3 separate regions of the Homo sapiens genome follow, and all the other regions are linked to region 1. Evidence: fine-mapped expression QTL. A gene starts in region 1. Each other region holds a variant in brackets. All regions are shown on one strand. Distances are from middle to middle. Region 1 holds the start of TRAPPC12 (trafficking protein particle complex subunit 12). Region 2 overlaps TRAPPC12 (trafficking protein particle complex subunit 12). Region 3 overlaps TRAPPC12 (trafficking protein particle complex subunit 12).

What was found. PIP is the estimated chance that this variant, and not a neighbour inherited with it, causes the effect.
Region 2: its variant is fine-mapped to the expression of TRAPPC12 in whole blood (TOPMed, PIP 0.92).
Region 3: its variant is fine-mapped to the expression of TRAPPC12 in whole blood (TOPMed, PIP above 0.99).

What each region holds. Positions count from the first base shown.
Region 1 is chr2:3,377,375-3,382,374 of GRCh38, forward strand. TRAPPC12 (trafficking protein particle complex subunit 12) reads left to right here and starts at 2,320. Exons shown (of 12, transcript NM_016030.6): 1 at 2,320-2,502. It overlaps EIPR1 (EARP complex and GARP complex interacting protein 1), which reads right to left and starts at 444. Exons shown (of 9, transcript NM_003310.5): 1 at 274-444. The coding sequence starts at 315. RefSeq lists enhancers at 1-227, 248-427, 448-497, 769-1,285, 1,286-1,802 and silencers at 668-727, 2,291-2,340.
Region 2 is chr2:3,455,513-3,462,677 of GRCh38, forward strand. It overlaps TRAPPC12 (trafficking protein particle complex subunit 12), which reads left to right. Exons shown (of 12, transcript NM_016030.6): 7 at 2,109-2,181; 8 at 4,751-4,824. Among named protein-coding and RNA genes, the nearest start is that of TRAPPC12-AS1, 24 kb to the right of the region's middle. RefSeq lists enhancers at 4,310-4,823, 5,176-6,043. The variant A/G (reference allele first, on the strand shown) is at 4,114.
Region 3 is chr2:3,440,597-3,447,761 of GRCh38, forward strand. It overlaps TRAPPC12 (trafficking protein particle complex subunit 12), which reads left to right. Exons shown (of 12, transcript NM_016030.6): 6 at 3,183-3,295. Among named protein-coding and RNA genes, the nearest start is that of TRAPPC12-AS1, 39 kb to the right of the region's middle. The variant G/T (reference allele first, on the strand shown) is at 3,484.

The sequences.
Region 1 (5,000 bases):
CACCAAAGTGAGTGATAACTTCCAGGTCAGAAGTCATGTTCGGGACAGGATGTGAAGGGGAAGGAGGCAGGCCGGCTGTGGCCAACCCTGTTATCCAGTACAACCGTTTAACCTCCTAAAGCCTCAGTTTACTTCTCTGCAAAATGGGAACTAGGGAACAGACACGGGTCCTTGCAGGGCTGGTGGGAGATCTGCAAACCGAAGTCACCATGGGACCGCGCATGCTATCAACAGCCAGGCCGAGCAGCACCTGCCGCCCTCCCAGTGACCCACCTGGAACTCCAGCCCGTAGATCACTGGTGCATCGTCCTCCATGCTGCGGGGAAGCGACCCGACCCCGGCCACTCACACGCTAAGGACCTCGCTACGGCCGGCGCGTCCCCACCTCGCGGGCGTGTTCCCAGCGCCCATTCATTCCCTCCCCGCAGCAAACGACTCCAAACTGGAAGTCTTTCTGGCCCAGAACAGCTTCCGTAGTGGCCACTTCCTATTTTTCGGATGTGTCATCAATCTGTTCCTCACCAGCGACCAATGGCAGCGGCGCTGGCTTGTGCGCATGGCCACTTGGGCTCACATCCGGGCTCTCAGCGCGGGGACTCCTGGAGGTGAGAACCCGGCCCAGAGGAAATAAGTTGGTGGGCGGAGCGGGCCGCGGAGGCCGGCTGTGGGTGGAGGCCGGCTCCGAGCGCAGGCCGTCGGGAGCAAGCGGCGATTAGCCTTAGCTAGCCATCGCATCTAAGAATCGCTCACGCCGTAGTTGGGCGCCGCCATGTATTGTCATTTGTATGTACTTGGCGTTCCTGAGCGCTGGGCCAGCGCTTCACACGCACTGCCATAAGGAGCTTCATCCAACCCTATGAATAAGCTGTTACACTTCCATTTTACCGATGAGACGCTGCAAAGTTGAGTAACACAGTCGCAGCGCTCATTGGTCCATTGGGTAGCCAGGATGGGCACCTGAGCTGACTCCCTTAGGTTCGGCCCAAGGTGCCCTAAGTCAGGGCCATGCCTAATGCATTTCTGCAGGTGCCCAGCACTGTGTGGCAAAGAAAGCACTACCAAGGATGGGGTTATGAAAGCCGGCACCGCACCACTGGTGGTCCTGGACTGCATATGCCTCCGAATGGGAGTCGGAAGGGAAGGCCCTGGGGTTCCTAGAGGTCTCCAAAGACTAAAGACTTGTGGTGGAGAGACTGCCCCTCTTTCGCATCCTGCTCAAAGTGCCTGCCCTGGCCTTGGGCCAGCAGAAATGGCATCGCAAGGACTCCAAAATACATCATAGCTGAACCACGCCGCTAGCCTGGTTCCACCGGGGCTTCCAGGACCACGCACCTTTCCTCCATTTCTGTGATTAGCTTTCCCCTCTACCCTTTATTGATCTCCGTGACGGAAATGGTTGGGTCTCGTTTTGCTCAGTTGGGCAAGGCGCGTGGTATTGAGTTAAGGCTGGATGAGTATCTGTTGAGTGTATGAAATTTTAGAGATTACATGAGAAATCAAATGAGCAGGCCGGGCGCGGTGGCTCACGCTTGTAACCCCAGCATTTTGGGAGGCTGAGGAGGGTGGATCACAAGGTCAGTTCGAGACCTGCCTGGCCAACACAGTGAAACCCCGTCTCTACTAAAAATACGAAACTTAGCCCAGCGTGGTGGCACGCGCCTGTAATCCCAGCTACTCGGGAGGCTGAGGCAGGAGAATCGCTTGAACCCGGGAGGCGGAGGTTGCAGTGAACCGAGATCGCGCCACTGCACTCCAGCCTGGGCGACAGAGCCAGAGTCGGTCAAAAAAAAAGAAAAGAAAAGAAAGAAATCAAGTAAGCAAAAACAAGAAAGAAAGAAATCAAGTAAGCAATGGCCCAGACATGAGAATCATCCTATTCAACCACTCTGTTTGCCGATATTAACTTGCGGAGCTAAGAGGGCCTTCATACTTCGGGATTAAACCCACCCATCTATCACTGATATCTTTATCATTAATTTTATTATACAAGTACTGCAGGTGCATGGTAAGAAACTTACAAAATACAGATAAACACAAAGACAAATCCATAGAAACACTGATTTCTAGGATATGCTGGTCAATAAAAATAGCCTAAGCGACTCCCTTTCACCCGCCCCATCTGCCACAGGCTTGCCTATTGCCTCTGAGTGACAGAATCAGGCTAGGTGGAGTGGAGTCTCCGTTCCCATTTCCAAGTACAGGGTCCGCTCCCCTCAACTACCGGCTCCTGGTTGCCTGTGCGCGTTCACACCTAGGGCTCCAGGCCCCGCCCACAGCAGACGAACCGGAAACGAACCCCATTTCCGGCCTGGGGGCAGGGCCTCGGGTTCCTGCATCGGGCCTGAGCAGAACTAGGCGCGCCGCGGCCCGGCACGCGCAGGCGTACAGAGCTCCCCGGGGGTGCCAGTTCCTCTCCGATTCCCGGCTTCTGTCACCTTCCTCACGGACCTTGGTCACGGCCGCAGGTGACCCCTTAGCCCAGCTCCAGTGGGCGGGTGGCAGGTGAGGATCAGGGCCTCGGCAGTCCAGAGGGGATGGGACCGTGTAGCGCCACCTCGGGGAGGGAGCACACTGGCTTTGGCCTCAGCCCGGAGGGACCTTCTCTGGGACCGATGCTAGAGTGGGCGTGGGGTCCGGGCGCGGGGTCGCCTGCCACCCAAGGGCGTGTGTGCTCCGCGGGCCTTGTGCCAGGCTCCACGTCGCCGCGGCCCTTGCTCTCCACGTCTGCAGAGGGCTGGAAGCGTCTCTGCAGCCCGCGGAGTTTGCGGGAAGGGGAAGCTGCTGCGAAGCGTGTGGGAAACTACCCGCTGGCGCGCGCCCAGGCGTCCCCGAGACCCCCAGTTCCAGGCTTGGTGCCAGCCAGGCCCCCAGCAAGCCCCTTAACTTCCCTTAGACTTAATTCACCCTCCCGCGGAAAGAGGTTACTAATGACCTGCCCTGCCAAACTCAGCATTGTGAGGCTGCAATGCAGTGTAAAAGCATTTGAGTCACTGTGTAAACGTCCGCTGTTGCTACACATACTAATTGTAGAGTATATTTACTGTGAAGACCGAAAAAGCGTTTATTCAACAGAAAGCGTTAGGGTCAAAGATGTGTTTTAACGTGTCATTTTTTCACTCTTCACTACGAAACAGTGTAGCCCCAAGGAAAAATTTTCTTGGACCTACGGTTTGTACTTTTTAATGGCTACTTGAAGATATGGTGTCTTTGGATTCAGTCACTGTTCGCAAATTCAGAAGATAGTGGCGGATAATGAGCCAGTCCCGTCTTGGGATTGGGGTGGGAGAGGGACAGGGGAAAAGCAAATGAAATATTACACAGTGTTACTCATTCAGTTCTTACATTTTGTGATATCTGATGGGATCTTCTTCACAGTTACTAAACTGGGTGTTGCCACTCTGCTTTATCATTAAAATGATAATTACTATGCTTGTGTCTGTGCAGCTCTTCACACTTTAAAAGATGCCTATGCAGGGGTGCCACTATTTAATCCTCTTTATTCTGATGTACCATCTAAAAGATCAAGATTTTCAGAGGTTACTTCACTTGGTCGGGAAGCTAAGACTCAACACAGTTATTGAGACACTGCCTTCAGAGCTCTTTCTGCCCACCCCTGCCTGGCAACCTTGCAAGAGGAGCTGAGAGGTGACCAGCACAAAGAAAAGAGTATTGGCAGAAAGCGCTGTGTGGGTAGCCTGTCACCATCAGGTACTGTCAGTGTGATGTTAGGCAAATCACTTGGCCTTCTCTGCTGTATGATGGAGGTAATAATAATGCTTCAAAAGTTTAGGATGAGTATTAAATAATAAGGTAAAATGCTTGATCTGTAGTGAGTGTTCATTACATGGAGACTTCTGTTAATACGTGCCACCTAGATTTCCACTACACACCCTCGTGCCCTTATGGAAGGAAATTTTACATGACTGCAATTTGGTAAAAGATATGTTTACAGAGTGTCTGTGTCCAGGAAATGAACCTGAGAAACCAAGTTTTAAATGTTGTTAGGAACTTTTTATTTCTCAAATACAGAATTACTTAAATTTAATATTTAAAAAAATTTTAAACAATTAATTAATCACATTCTTGTGCAAAGCCCTCAACTGGACAAGGAGAAAGTCAGATTTCTTTGCTGCACTGTGATGTAAAGCTTCTGTAAGCTTATGTAAGCTTAAAATCCTATTTATAGTTTAATAAAAATAAAGCCAATGATAGGAGGGAGTAAAGATTTCTATCACGTACAAATCAAGAACAGATACTTGTGTTTTTCCATTTTTAATTATGAACTATAAAGACTACCCGTAACACACATGTGAGATTTAAAGATCAAGTCAACCCAGTCTTCCATTACCAGCATAAGATGGGGACCATTTCCCAGTGCGTTGAAACTTCCGTGTGTCCCTCCCCAGTCAAGCTCTCCTGCCATCACCTTCCACCCCTCCCTCACTAAAGTGGCTGTTACTATATCCTGGCTTTTCTTTGTAGTTTGACCAAATATGTTTGTGTTCCTAACACAGAAAAAGTGTTTGGATTCAACACTTTTGTTTAATTTACATGTTTTTGAATATACAGAGTCATGCTGTTTATTTTTCTACTCATTCTTTGTGCAAAATTGTATTTGTGAGATCCAAACATAATTTATATGTTAGATATGGAAGAGTTCACTGATTTTCACCACTATTTTAATATTTTATGTCCTAGTATACCACAGTCTACTTATTTACTTATTATTGTGTCTACAGGCAGTGTTTATTTCCACTTTTTTTTTTTTTTTTTTTTTTTGAGATGGAGTCTTATTCTGCCGCCAGGCTGGAGTGCAGTGGCACGATCTTGGCTCACTGCAACCTCCGCCTCCTGGGTTCAAGTGATTCTGCTGCCTCAGCCTCCCAAGTAGCTGAGACTACAGGCGCCCGCCACCATGCCTGGCTAATTTTTTGTATTTTAATAGAGACAGCATTTCACTATGTTAGCCGGTATGGTCTTGATCTCCTGACCTCGTGGTC
Region 2 (7,165 bases), 79 kb after region 1:
CCAGCCTCTGGTAACCATCCTCCTGCTCTCCATCTCCATGAGTTCAGTTGTTTAAAGTTTAGCTCCCACAGATAAGTGAGAACATACGATGTTTGTCTTTCTGTGCCTGGCGTATGTCACTTAACACAGTGACCTCCAGTTCCATCCATGCTGTTGTAAATGACAGGATACCATTCTTTTTTATGGCCGAAGAGTACTCCATCGTGTATATATGGCAATTCCTTTATCCCCTTGTCTGCTGATGGACACTTAGGTTGCTTCCAAGTCTTGGCTGTTGTGAACAGTGCTGCAGCACACACGGGTGTGCAGTGATCTCTGATAGACTGATTTCCTTTCTTTTCTTTGGAGTATATATCTAGGCATGGATTGCTGCGTTGTATGGTAGCTCTATTTTTTGTTTTTTTGTAGAAACCTCAAACTGTTCTCCCTAGTGGTTGCACTGATGTACATTCCCACCAACTGTGGACAAGGGGTGAGGGAAGTTAATTTCATGGTAACACCAAGCCTTTCCTTTTTGTCAGTTTCTGTTCTTATGATCATTCATTAGAAGGCAGATTCACTGAAGAATGTCGTTTTACCTAGTTTAAACTGGCTAGATTCTTTTCAAGGTTACAATTTTGAACCCCACCTTGTCCCCTGAGTCATCGAGGTAGCCCAAGATAACGGTTAAGAGGAAACATCCTTTGTGTTGGCAGCAAATTGTTCTCCAGTTTCTGTTAAGTAGTGTCCCTTGCAGGTGAGGAGAGGCTGCTTTCATCCTCAGCAGGTAGAGACCGGGGAGTCGGACCAGCGGAAATCCTCACCTCCTGGGGTGGGCCGTGTGGGGAGTGTTAACTGGCAAGACGATCTAAATTCTCTACCCAGATCACAGCGGCTACAGCAGCTTTGCTTTCAGAGAAGAAAACACAAAAAAAAGTGCCCAAAAGTTAAAAAGCAAGTGGTAAAACCGGGAAGCGACACGTTGCACAAAACGTATTTGGTACGTTAAAAAGGCCAGAAGCACGGTGCCCTGTAGGAATGAGACTGACATCTTCACAAAAGGTCATCATCAGTCTCATGTGACATTCTCCATGCTTTTTTTTTAAAGACAGGGTCTCATTCTGTCACCCAGCCTGGAGTGCAGTGGTGCAGTCCCTGGTCACTGCAGCCTTGACCTCCCAGGCTCAGGTGATCCTCCCACCTCAGCCTCCCAGGTAGCTGGGACCACAGGCGCACACCACCATGCCCAGCTAATGTTTTGTATTTTTGTAGAGATGGGGTTTTGCCATGTTGCCCCAGCTGGTCTCTAACTCCTGGGCTCAAGTGACCCACCTGCCTCGGCCTCCCAAGGTGTTGGGATTACAGGCTTGAGCCACCGCTCAATCCCAGAAGTGTTGGGATTACAGGCTTGATGCTTTTCTTAAAAAACATATTCCCCATGTATGATGTCTGCAGATACTTCAAGAACATCATAAACACCACTTTCACCATCAGCTGGGAGCAGAGTCCCTCCCCATTCACTGTCGCCCCACGCCATAGGGACTTGGTGATGTTTACAGTGTGTCCCTGTGGGCGAACGGGATAAGGAAAAGATGGTGCACATACACTGTGGAATACTACGCAGCCGTAAAAAAAGAACCAAATCATGTTGTTTGCAGCAACATGGATACAGCTGGAGGCCATTATCCTAAGTGAATTAACACAGAAACAGAAAACCAAATAGTGAATGTTTTCACATGTAAGTAGAAGCTAAACATTGGATTCACATGGACAAAAAATAGACCAGAGACTACCAGTGGGGGGAGGGTGGGATGGGAGGAAGAGCTGAAAAATGATCTGTTGGGTCCCATGCTGACTACCTGGGTGATGGCTTCAATCGTACCCCAACCTCAGCATCACCCAGTATACCCAGGTAACCTGCACACATACCTCCTGAATCTAAAATAAAGTTGCAATTTAAAATAAATAAAATATCAAATGTTTTAATATTTTTTAAAAGTATGTGTGAACATCCCTTGACAAATTGTTTTCATCCAGAGAAATTTGCTGTACTGAGATTATATTATAACAAAGTCTTAGACAAAAATTGGTTCCCATGATTTTGTCCTTCTCATTTGGAATGATTGCAGATCCTGGCCAATTTGGAGCAAGGCTTAGCAGAAGACGGCGGCATGAGCAGCGTGACTCAGGAGGGCAGACAAGGTGGGTCGGCCGGACTTTGCTGACTAGATGCTTCTCGGACATCACTGACAGACTGAGCCCAAAGCCTCTCGCTTCCTCTCCTTCTCCTTTCCTTTCTGTAGTCAGCACTGCACGTGTCCACTCGTGCATTTGCAACTCACTCCTTTCTTGGGGAAGCCAAGCACATCACTGGGTGATGCTGTGGGTGCAACGTGCAGCCTCAGACCCGAACCCTGCGCCCGGGGAGAAGACACGCCTTCACCACAAAAGCACACGGCCCGGAACCTGCCACGCTGAGTGGTCTGAGTGGGCGCGAGGAAGGAGCCCAGCCCAGCCGAAGGGGCCCAGAGGGGCCTCTGCGTCGGGGAGAGAGGCCTCTGCGTCGGGGACAGAGGCCTCTGCGTCGGGGACAGAGGCTCGGGAGGGTGCTTCAGGAGGAGCTGGAGAGGAAGGCCCAGAGCCTGGGGCAGGCTGAGGGACCTGGGCAGTTCCCTGGAGCATTGGAAACCCCTTGGGGGACTGGGTGGGTTGACATGAGCTGATCTGCACAGTGAGGCCATGCCAGCTGCAGCTCGGGGAGTGCGTTAGCCAGGAGCAAGCTTCCGATCATGCTTGGAAACCTGGCCTGAGTGCTCCCTCCCAGGTAGCCCCACCCTAGCCTCACTCCCTCACTCCTTGTGGCAGCATCTCCCCACAGGCCTGGTGGCCTGGTCATCTCCTCCTTCCCACAGCTTCTGTCCTACTCGATGTGCAGCCCAAGTCAAGATCGGGTGGTCTCCGTTTCCGCAGGTGTGCTGGGGTTTCTGGGGAACTGCTGGCTGGTGTGAGCTGAACGTGTGTGAGGTGTGTATGTGTGTGGTGTGTGGATGTTGGGTGTGCATGCTGTGGCATGTGGTGTGGGTGTGGTGTGTGCATGTGTGTGCACTTGTGCACTCTCTTTTCAGTAATTTAATTGCAGGTAGAGTAACAAGGTCTGAAGGAGAGACGGCACTGTCTGCTCATGGATGTCCCATTCAGCATTCTTGGCAACCAGTCATTTTACCCCTGGTTGGGCTCCTGCTTTGGTGGGAATGAGCATGTAGTTATCAGAGAGCAGAAGGCTGTTCCTGGAAATCTAACAGAAGGTCACACCCATGAGCATTTATAAGGAGGGTAGGGGAGGATTTAGAGCAGGAAAGGAATCTGCAAAGATCATCAGAATAAATATGCAATTCATTGAGACAATCCATATTTTACATCCATTAAGAGAAGATATTCAGAATTTCTTTTCACAAAAATAATGGTATAAGGGGAACATAAGCAGCTAATGTGTTTTTCATTGCTGAAAGGCAAAGTGAGTTAAGTTTTTAATTCTAGCAATTAAGTTTCTGTGTGTTCTCCTGAAGCACACCGTAAATGCACATCATTTCTAGGTGATTGTTATCTCACAGTGGACGCTTGGTGCCAGCGGTGGGTCAGCTTCAGCCTCCTAAATCACAGCCTCAGAGGCAGCCAGGGACACACGGCTCCCAGTGCCCAGCGATGAGGGAGGCCAGGAGCACTCCCAGGGCCTGGTGCTGCCCAGGGTGGCATCTTGGCACTTTGCAGTTGGAAGTGTGGACTTTTCTTCGAGGAAGTAGACACAGCACAGGCGCAAGGAGCGCTGGACAAGGGGTCAGATGGAAGCGTCCCTGGCCTCTGTGGACCTCAGCCTGCCTGTCAATAATATGTTCATTTCAGATTAGCTCAGTCCTCAACCTGCGCCTTCCTCCTGGTCATCCCAATGATAAACAGGCACCATTGGTCAGCCCACCCTCCCCCCAGGGCAGCTCCCAGGGGACCTTTGCAGACCCCAAGAAGGCCACAAAGCCAGTTTGGAAACTACTAGAAGAGATGGGCCCTGAAGGTTTGAAATCAGTGGAGGGATGGCTGCTAACTAAATAATGTGCAGGGGAGAGCAGGGAGGGACGGGCC[A/G]GGCTCAGGGTCGCGGTCAGCCACCGTGTGGCAGCAGGTGCTAGGGAAGGAAGCCAGCTGCAGGGGAGTGCCGAGTCCCCAGCGGAATGTGCCAGCCACTTGAGTTCTGGAACACGGTGTAGCACTCCTTGGGGGAACCGGCGTCTGCACCAGCCCATGGTCGGGAGGCAGGGGAGGCCTCATGGCTGGGCATGGGTGGGGCCCTCCGGGTGGCCTCCCATAGGTCAACTGCGAGAGGCTGGCGGCCACCCTGGCCAGTGGCCCTCCCAGCCTTGTCGAGCTGCAGGCAATGTCGTCGTTTCTGTCAGCTTTGCTCCTTTTCTCAGGGTTCTGGCTTTGGAAACGGGGCCCCCGGTCGGACCATTTGGCCTTGTGTCTGGGCTGATGCTGAGCAGCCACCCTCCTGGTTCTCTGATGCCGAGGGTCTCTTCCCAAAGCCACCTCTGGTCCCAATGCGAGTGCTGTATTTTCTGCCTCAGTGCAGCCTGCAGCATATTCAGCATTCCAGGCCGAAATCCAGTGGTGTTAACAAGAGGGATCTTTTAAAGTTAAATTAGAATTCACAGGACCCAGTAATTGAGGGCTAGAAAGAGCCTCGAATTTATTTGTGCACTTACAGGCTGCTCTTACCTTGTAGCCTCTATCCGGCTGTGGAGGTCACGTCTGGGCCGGGTGATGTACTCCATGGCAAACTGTCTGCTCCTGATGAAGGTACGTGGGTGGCCAAGCAGGGCTGCCATGTGATCTGGAAGAGCGGGGTCAGTGGGAGCCGCGAGGGAGCCGCTGGTATAATAGATGCTGGCAGGGACCGGCCGTGCAGAGAAGCCAGCTAAGTACTGGCTTAACAGGGAGCCCAGTGACACATTATGGGGCTATATGTACTTTATTTCTACTGCAAGAAATTTCAACAGAATGTAGAATTTAGATGATCAGATTTCATTATTGAAATGTGGGTCTAAATGATTTAATTAAAAGTATTGTTCATTTTCCCCCATTTTTCTCTGAACTCCATCCCCAGAAGGTGTCCTTTGTTCTCCCTATCTTCGTGGAGGGTGTTTTTTTCACCTCATGGTTTTGATTTTATGATTGATGCTTACAACACCTGAAGACAGGCTTCCCCACAAGACCTTCTTAGGACGTCACCCCAGAGCTCTCAGCCCGCAGGGAAACAGCTTAGAAATCAAGGAGCTGAACTGAGGCTGTCATCTGTTTTTCCGTGTCTCCTGGCTCTCGCCAGCCTGTGCAACGGTGTTTTTTGGCTCCTCTCTTTGTTTGGAACGCACCCCACACCTGGCTCACCTCCCACACTGGGCATCAGGGTGCCCTGTGTGGAGCTAGTGTCCCTGCAGCCAGCTGTGCGTACTGAGAGCTACTGCAGGAATCAGCTAGCAGCAGGCGCTCCGGAGCAGTGCTCGTAACACCTCCTGGGCTGTTCGAAGACAGCGACCTTAACTCCCACACCCATGCGGCTTTCATGGGGCCAAGGTCATTCCTGAGCTTGATTTTCAGCAAGGCAGAGCAGGCAATTTACCAGCGGAGAACTGTGCTCACGGGCTCTGTCATGAACCCTGAAGTGGCAGCCCTGCTTTATGCACGGACCCTGCAGCATCCCCAGAGGTGACTGTGACCCCGGGCACTGCTCCGAGCAGGCTGGGTGCGGGTATAGATTCACAGCCATCAGTGGCTCAGGCATTCCATCAGGAAGACGTGCAGCCCGCACCCCGGCTTTAGCGCAGCCCCAGTGCCCAGTGCGGGGCCGCTGCCTTTGCGCTTCTGCGTCTACGTCAGGCTGGACGCACAAGGAGACTCGGCGTCCTGTTCATCCTCGGTAGCAAGCGACCGTGACGCAGCCTCGCACTACTGCAAGCCTCAGCCTCCTCCTTAAAATAAGGGCATAGATCTGAGATCTCTGAAATCCCTCCCAGCTCTGACATTCACACAGCTCTCTCCTCTCCTTCAACACACTGGATAAAGGAAATTACGGTTTTCAAGTTCTGTGGTTTTGCTCAGAGCAGGTTTTTCTTCCGCTGCCACTCCTGAGATAGTCCCACTGAGGTCAGGTGGCCCGCACAGGTGCTTTGTTCTGGTCCTCACCCTCCTCCCACCCGCCCCCTTCCCTTCTCCAGCCCCCTCTGGCTTCTGCAGCAGGGCTTGCCCACCTCTGAGTGGGAGTGAAAAGTAGGCCCTCCTGCTCCCCTGCCCTGGTGGCCTCTTCACCACCCAAGGCTTGGCCAGCAACCAGGTGACCCCGAAGCACCCGGCCTGACCCCTCTGCCTCCCAAAACAGGCCATTCTCCCTGTGCTGCCTGTGGCCAGCCCTGACACCCCCACCTGGCGGTCTGGGCGGTCCGCAGTAGGCCTCCACCTGCTGAGGGCATTGTCAGCGTCACCTGAAAGTCACCAGCTTGCCGGAACATTCTTATGCAAAGACATGAAGAATCAATTATAAATTCACAGGACTGACGTTTCACTAATCATGGGGCTAAAACTCCCCAGGGAGGAAAGTTCCCTGTTCCACTGGCGGGCTTTCATTTGCATTTTAAGACACATTAATAGAAAACGACGGAATGGGCTTTTCTTTGTGGCACTGTGGTAGTAACACCACCACCAGGCTCCGAATGTGAGTCTTCTTCCTGTATTGCTGGGACTCAGTACAGAACATATTATTGCATTTCAAAAATACTTTTACAATGGACATGATTTAATTTGAAAGTTCAGCTTAAGCTTTCATTTTCATGAGTTAAAAAAAGGAGGCAAAAATGTTGCAATTAAAGCCAAGCCAAGCATATGCACTCTCTTGCCATCTAGTGAGCATACAGGGTATTGCAACAGTGTGTGATCTTAATAATATGGGGTATCCTGTTAATTAAATTATGTATATGGGCTAACAATGAGTTATTTAATCAGCCATTTAATTATCTTGAATAACATTTTTATTACAGTGAAATAAATACCAATTTAACTTCTTAGCAATGAAATGTATTCATACGTTTTAGCCCTGGATAAATCTGCATGATATGCTATAATGCACAGTGGCATGTATTATAAAGCA
Region 3 (7,165 bases), 64 kb after region 1:
TAATTATGTCATTGCAAACAAGTAGTTTTATTTCCTTCTTCCCAGTCTGTGTACCTTTGGTTTTCTTGTCATTGCATTAGCTCGAACTTCCAGTACAATGTTCAGTAGAAGAGATAAGAGGGAACATTGTTGCTTTATTCATGATCTTAGGGGGAAGTCACTGAGTTTCTCACTCTTAAGTTTGTTGTTAGCTGCAGTTGTTTTGTAGATGTCCTTTATTAAGTTGAGGAAGTTTCCCTCTATTCCTAGTTGGCTGAGAGTTTTTATCACGAGCTGGTGCTGGATTTTGTTAAATGCTTTTCTACATCTATTGATATGATTTTTGTTCTTTAGCCTGTTTGATGTGGTAGATTATGTTAATTGATTTTGGAATGTTAGATCACCCCTGCATACCTGGAATAAATTCTGTCTGGTCATGGTTCATAATTCTTTTTATACATTGTTGGATTTGGTTGCTAATTTTTTGTTGACTTCAGTTTTCTTAGATTTAGTTTGCTAATTTTGTTGAAGATTTTTGCATTTATGTTCATGAGACATATTGGTCTACAGTTTTTTTTTCTTGTAACGTCTTTGTCTGGTTTTGGTATTAGGGTAATGCCAGACTCATATAAGAAGTTAGAAAGCGTTCCTCTGCTTCTGTTTTCTGAAAGAGATTGTAGAGAACTGGTAGCATTTCTTCCATAAATGTTAGGTGGAATTCACAGTGAGACCATCTGGGTCTGGGGCTTGCTTTTTGGAAAGGTTTTTCTTTTTCTATCCAAGTTACCAAATGTATGGACATAGAGCTGTTCATAATATTCCTTTACTATTCTTTTACTGTTCATAGGATCCATAGTAATAGTCCTTCACTTCTAGTACTAGTTGTTTATGTCTTCTCTGTTTTTTGACTAGCCTGGGGAGAGACTTATTGGTCTTGTCAGAGTTTTATTGGTCTTGTCAAAGAATATGTTTTTGGTTTGGTTGATTTTGTCTATTGATTTCCTGTTTTCAGTTTCACTGATTTCTGCTCTAATTTTTATTATTATATTTTTATTATTTTCTTATTATAATACAATAATATTTTTATTATTTTCTTATAATAAAATATTTTATTTTCTTATAATAAAATAATATTTTTATTATTTTCTTCTCTACTGCTTACTTTAGGCTTATATTGCTCTTTCTTTCCTTCTAGTTTTCAAAGGTGAAGCTGGTTTCAGATCTTTCTTTTCCAATATATGCATTTAATGCTAAAAAGCTTCCTCTCAGCACTGCTTTTGCTGCATCCCACAAATTTTGATAAGTTGTATTTTTATTTTCACTTAGTTCAAAATATTTTCACATGTGCTTTTACATCCAGAAGCACCCCCATGTCCATGGGCAGTTGTCAGGATAAGGGGCAGCTAACTTTCTGCCACCTTCTCAGGTGAAGTGGCAGGAGTCACACAGCCTGTTTTCTCACCATCCACCAAACTGTATTCCAGATCGGAGTATTAACAGCTAGTCTATAAATTGAGATCGGAGTATTAACAGCTAGTCTGTACGTTGAGATCGGAGTATTAACAGCTAGTCTGTACGTTGAGATCGGAGTATTAACAGCTAGTCTGTAAACTGAGATCGGAGTATTAACAGCTAGTCCCAAGTTGGGTTTGAGAACTTCCAGTAGAGGTTTGTTTCTGTGCTTATCTTATAGAGCTTGAAGGGTTCTTGAGATATTCTCTCCCTTGTGGTAAGTGATAAACCACACAGGAGTGATTCTGGCCCCTTCTCTACTTGAGACAGAAGGATGGAAGTGACGTGGCTTACATATAACTTACCATGTTGGGCCGGTTCCACAGTGACATGACTTACATATGACTTAATTGTAGGCCAGTCCCCTGTGTCATTATGCGGATGGTCTAGAAATGTTTATTTCTAGAAAACCGAAGTGACTCAGGCTGTAACTTAAGCTCGGCCAGATATTCTCTTGAGATACAGAAATTATTTAGTGGCATCAAAAAAGAAAGTTTAAACATTTTAAGTTCAATAATTGTTACCTTTCTTTTCTCCAGGCTTATAATCACAATAGAACTGTTTTCCATAGTGTTCCTTAATTTTGACTGTCTTCTTTTTGGACCTTTGTTATTAAAGACCATAAACATAAAGCTCATTTCAGTGTGGTCACGGCCCATTCTCAGTAATGGTTAATGAATAGACAGATGGATGCATTGAGGCACAGATACATTAAGTGGCTTGCAGAAGTCATACGCGTGTTTTCTCACCATCTTTCAGACTATATTCCAGATCCGAATATTCATCGCTTAGGCCTATTTTGAAAAGCACTTTACTGAATCTATGTGATTGCCCTCTGGCATTTCTCTATTCTTTATCTCATTTATAATCAGTGCACGCTATTTGATTTTTTGATGATTGTTATCTACTTAGTATACATACTACAGATCAAATTCCAAATCCTATTAGAAGAGAACACAATATTAACAAAAAGTTGACCTTACCCTGAGAGATGATGCAGCCACAGGTGATACGATATAAAGGGGGTTTCTCCTGAGCTTCTTCCTCTTCTTAGCGCACGCAAAGCCAGGCAGCTCTGGGTGATGGATTTTTCAAGTCCAGCTCCCTTGCCTCCTGTCAGAGGTGGAACGCAGGCTCCAGGGCCACATGGAATCCAGTGGGAGGCCCATCCCCAGGGCCGAGGCCTGAGACGCACCTGTGCTCAGTTTCGCCTCCTCCCCACTGGTTTTCCCGGGAGCACTTCCGGAACCACTGGCTGGCTTACGGCTTCTCCCTTCAGGGTCTCCTTCTGGGGAACCCAAGCTAAGCAACCTACCATTCGAGCTTGCTAAACTAAAGAAATATTAAAGAATATCTGAGCATTCTGGTTTTTCTTTTATTGGAGGAGGGGTTGGCGGTCTCTACTGTTTCATTCATTTTGGGATCATTTCTAAATGATTGCAGTGTAGCTTTGGAAATTGTGGTGTCATCCACCTGTCTCCTCTGATAATTGTCGAGACATACATACATAGAGCTCCATAGAGAAAACCAGCATGTATTTTATAGTTGACACCGTTAAATACTTCACAAGAAATAAAGGGATCTGTCATCACTTCTGCTGGGACATCTGCGACGCCTCCTTCAAGTGTGCCAAGTATGAATGCGTGCTCAGTTATGGCAAACAAACTCACTCAGCACTGATTGGATTCCAGGCTCCATGGTCCCCTTCTCGATGCGCATCTTGCACGCGGAGCTTCAGCAGTACCTGGGGAACCCACAGGAGTCGCTGGATAGACTGCACAAGGTGAAGACTGTCTGCAGCAAGGTAGGTGGCGCTGTCATTCTTCCCTGCCACGGGGAGAACATGCCCTCCACGCCCTCCCCACAGGACATGCCCGTGCTGTTCCCTGCCCGTCCTGCCCCATGCACCATCGCTGCTTCTGCCTTCAGAAGGCTAGGTGACCCGGTTTGTGTGGCCTGGTAGTCGTGTCTCTTGCTGAAATCTTTTTTAGG[G/T]ATGGTAAGAGTTTCTAGCAGAGCTTGAGTCCTGTAATTCTTACTGCCTGGTACTATGGGAAGCTGAAAGGCAGAGACATCTTTCTTGCCAAGGCTGCCAGCTGAAGCTTCAAGGTCAGTGTGCCAGACCACCCCTGTGTCCCACAAGTGCCCACACGCACCTGCCACGTGCAGACAGAGGTACCGGAGCAGTACTGAAAGCAATCATGGTTTAAGCTTTCAAATCCAAGTAAGTGCTTCTGCATTATGGCAACTGTCACTCATGATCCTGACTGCAAAGGCAGAGTCGGAGTGTTTTCGGACTCATTCTTGGTTGTGAAGTCACAGTTAATGTGGGAGCCACCAAAGTGGCACGTTATTACACTAACTGACATTGGGAAGAAATGTGGGACTCAGAGACTTTGCTGTCTACAGGTTGTTATAGAGTATTCATCTCAGATTAGGAATGATCCTGCCTTTCTACCCACGTCACAGTGTTCCTGTATAGGTTCAGTGACATAAGGTATGCGGAAGTACTTTGAAAACTACAACAACAAGCAGTTATTAGGAGCAGCAGCATATTATAATTTTTGGGAAAACTAAGATTCTTCTTGTCAGATTCCTCCTTTCACTTCCTAACTGTTGTGGTAGAAGTTTTGCGGAGTTCCAAGATGATGGTGTTAACAGTGTTCCTAGTAAGGAAGGAAGGGGCCCTCTTTATCCTTATCTGTGGAGAAAAAACAGGCGTTTCTAGGCCCCTTGTTGTCCTGGGCTTTGTACCCACTTCCATTTTTTTATTACCATAACTTAAAAGATAAAAAGAAAAATTGTTTGCTTTCTGTACTATATCAGTTGATGGAGAATCATGTTACCAACTTTTTTACATTTCAACACTTTTCTTGAATCTTAAAACGGGGTTTAATTTTATTTACAGAAATCGGAAGCACATAACTTGAAATTGAGAAGTTCTAAATCAGTGACTTTCTAAACTATACGAATTTTTCATTATCCTCCATGTCACATTGTAGGAAATCTTTATAGTATTTGAGAGAGAAAATTCTGGGCCATAGGGTGATTTGTGGATGGAAAAGCCAAGTTAGTTGAAGTAGTTTTGCAAGTCAGCTTTCCTGGTCCTGTTATGTCCTATTTCAGAATTATGCTCCTTAAATGCATACTACAGGCTGGGTACAGGGGCTCATGCCTGTAATCCCAGCTACTTGGGAGGCTGAGGCATGAGAATCGCTTGAACCCAGGAGGCTGAGGTTGCAGTAAGCCGAGATCAAGCCACTGCACTCCAGTCTGGGCAACAGAGCAAGACTCTGTCTCAAAAAAAAAGAAAAACTGCATACTACAGTGTAACGATGAGAGGAGCCACTTAGCACTAGCTATGAAGCAGCAGGGACGGTGGAGCAGAGAGCAGGAGCTTCCCACACCGCTGCTCTGGGCACCTGCACTTACTCCACCTGACAGACACCTTTGTTGCATTCATTATGAGGCAGCCACTGCTCTGAGTTCCAATATTAACTCATTTAATCCTTATCACAACCCTATGAAGGAGATGTTATTATCCCAATTTACAGATGGGGAAACTGAGGCACAGATAGGTTAGGTAACTTAGGATCACATGAGTTGAACCCAAGTCATCTGGCTCTAAAGTCCATGCTCTTCATCACTTGCCTGGCTTCATCACTATAACATGTCCCGTTTGAAGACAGAAGGACCGAGAGTCCTCTCTTCCACCCTGCACCAGCATTTCTGCTCCAAGAAAGGACAGTGCTGTCCGGGGTCAACTGACATCTGCTCAGAAGACCCCTGTGCTGAATGGGGCCCTGCCCCTTCCCCCTGACTGATGCCTGGAGATGGGCTCGAGCCTGTGCTCTGCTGGGCTGGGCCCTCCTGAGACTCTTGAGGGGGCTTCCAAGCAACAGCAGTTGACAGCTAAGCATCGTAGGGTTGGGGAGAAACGAGAAGGGTTAGTGCAGTCACATCCTAGGAACGTTTCTCTCAGGCTGACTGGGCGTGGGGCCACCGTCAGTGAGAGAGCCACTCATGCTTCTCGTTCCCTCCGCTGGTCTACAGTTCCACCTGCCTCTCATCTTGTGAATACATAACCGCACTTCAGGTATCTCTCATGTTTAAAGATACATATCTTTTCCATGGCATGATCCAAATCTAAGCCAACACTCCTTATGGTACTTAAATGAGGAAATCGCAATTCGTTCTAATCCTGGAAGAAAAACAAGCAGTTGGATTTATGAAAAGGTGTGTGTTGGTCTTCACCTTAAAGGATTTTCACCGTTAATTTCAATATGTAATTACTATGTGTTCCTTTATGTGCTGACTTAAAATTTGACACCCTCTTGAGAGAGAGAGCTGCACTGTGGCACAGCTGGTGGATGCCTGGACCAAGAGGGAAAGACCCAGGGCATGACCATATAGTCAGCCTTGCCTGTCCGCCACCTTTGGCAGGAGAAGAAGCACCGTCGCCAACTTCCTCGCTCACTTCCTTGCACGTTAGGGGCTCATGGCCGCATGTGGGCATTCTTGACCTTTCTGCGGCTGGTTCAGTGTTGAACTGAAGCAGTTTTTATCTGGATGTGAACAGTGGGCACTGCGGGGACATGGAGCAATGCGTCTCCACGCTGTCCAGAACAGCTCTATCTGAGCTTGTTCATTTGTTCATGCAGCAAATGCCCTTTCAGCACCTACTGAGTACTGCACACTGGCAGTTCGGGACTCAACAGAACGCAGCCTCGCCCTCAGTGAGTTTACAGTTTGGTAGACGATGCTTGTTTCACCTGTTCCTTTTAGGTTTGCAGCCATCACCAATACATCATGATCCTCCAGAATTTAAAAAGGGACAGTTTGTGTTCATGCTAGAATTTCTTTACTCAAGAAGTGTGTATTAGTCCATCTGGCTTTGCCATAAAGGAATACCCGAGGGTGAGTCATTTATAAAGAAAAGGTTTATTTTGGCTCACAGTCCTGCAGGCTGTACAAGAAGCACAGTGTCAGCATCTGCTTCCAGTGAGGCCTCAGGAAGCTTTTTTTTTTTTTCTTGAAGCGGAGTCTCGTTCTGTCACCCAGGCTGGAGTGCAGTGGCGCTATTGGCTCACTGCAACCTCCACCTCCCAGGTTCAAGCGATTCTCCTGCCTTGCCTCCTGAGTAGCTAGGATTACAGGCGCCCATCACCACACCTGGCTAATTTTTCTATTTTTAGTAGAGACAGGGCTTCACCATGGTGGCCAGGCTAGCCTCAAACTCCTGACCTCAAATGATCCACCCGCCTTGGCCTCCCACAGTACTGGGATTACAGGCATGAGCCACTGCGCCTGGCCAGGAAGCTTTTAATCATAGTAGAAAGCAAAGGGGAAGCAAGTGTGTCACATGGTGAGAAAGACAGCGAGAGAGAAGAGGAGGAGGAGGGAGGCACCAGACTTTTTTTGACAATCAGATCCCAAGGTAACTAACAGAGCCAGAACTCATTCATTGCCATAGGGACGGTACCAAGCCACCCATGAGGGATCCACCCCCAGGACACAAACACCCCCCACCAGGCCCCACCTCCAACACTGGAGCTCACATTTCAACATGAGATTTGGAGGGGATGAATGTCCAAACTATATCATAGTGCAAAATCTAAAAATACTAAAAGCCAGCCCACCACTATTCTGCCGGTGTTGATTTGCTGGATTAAAGTGA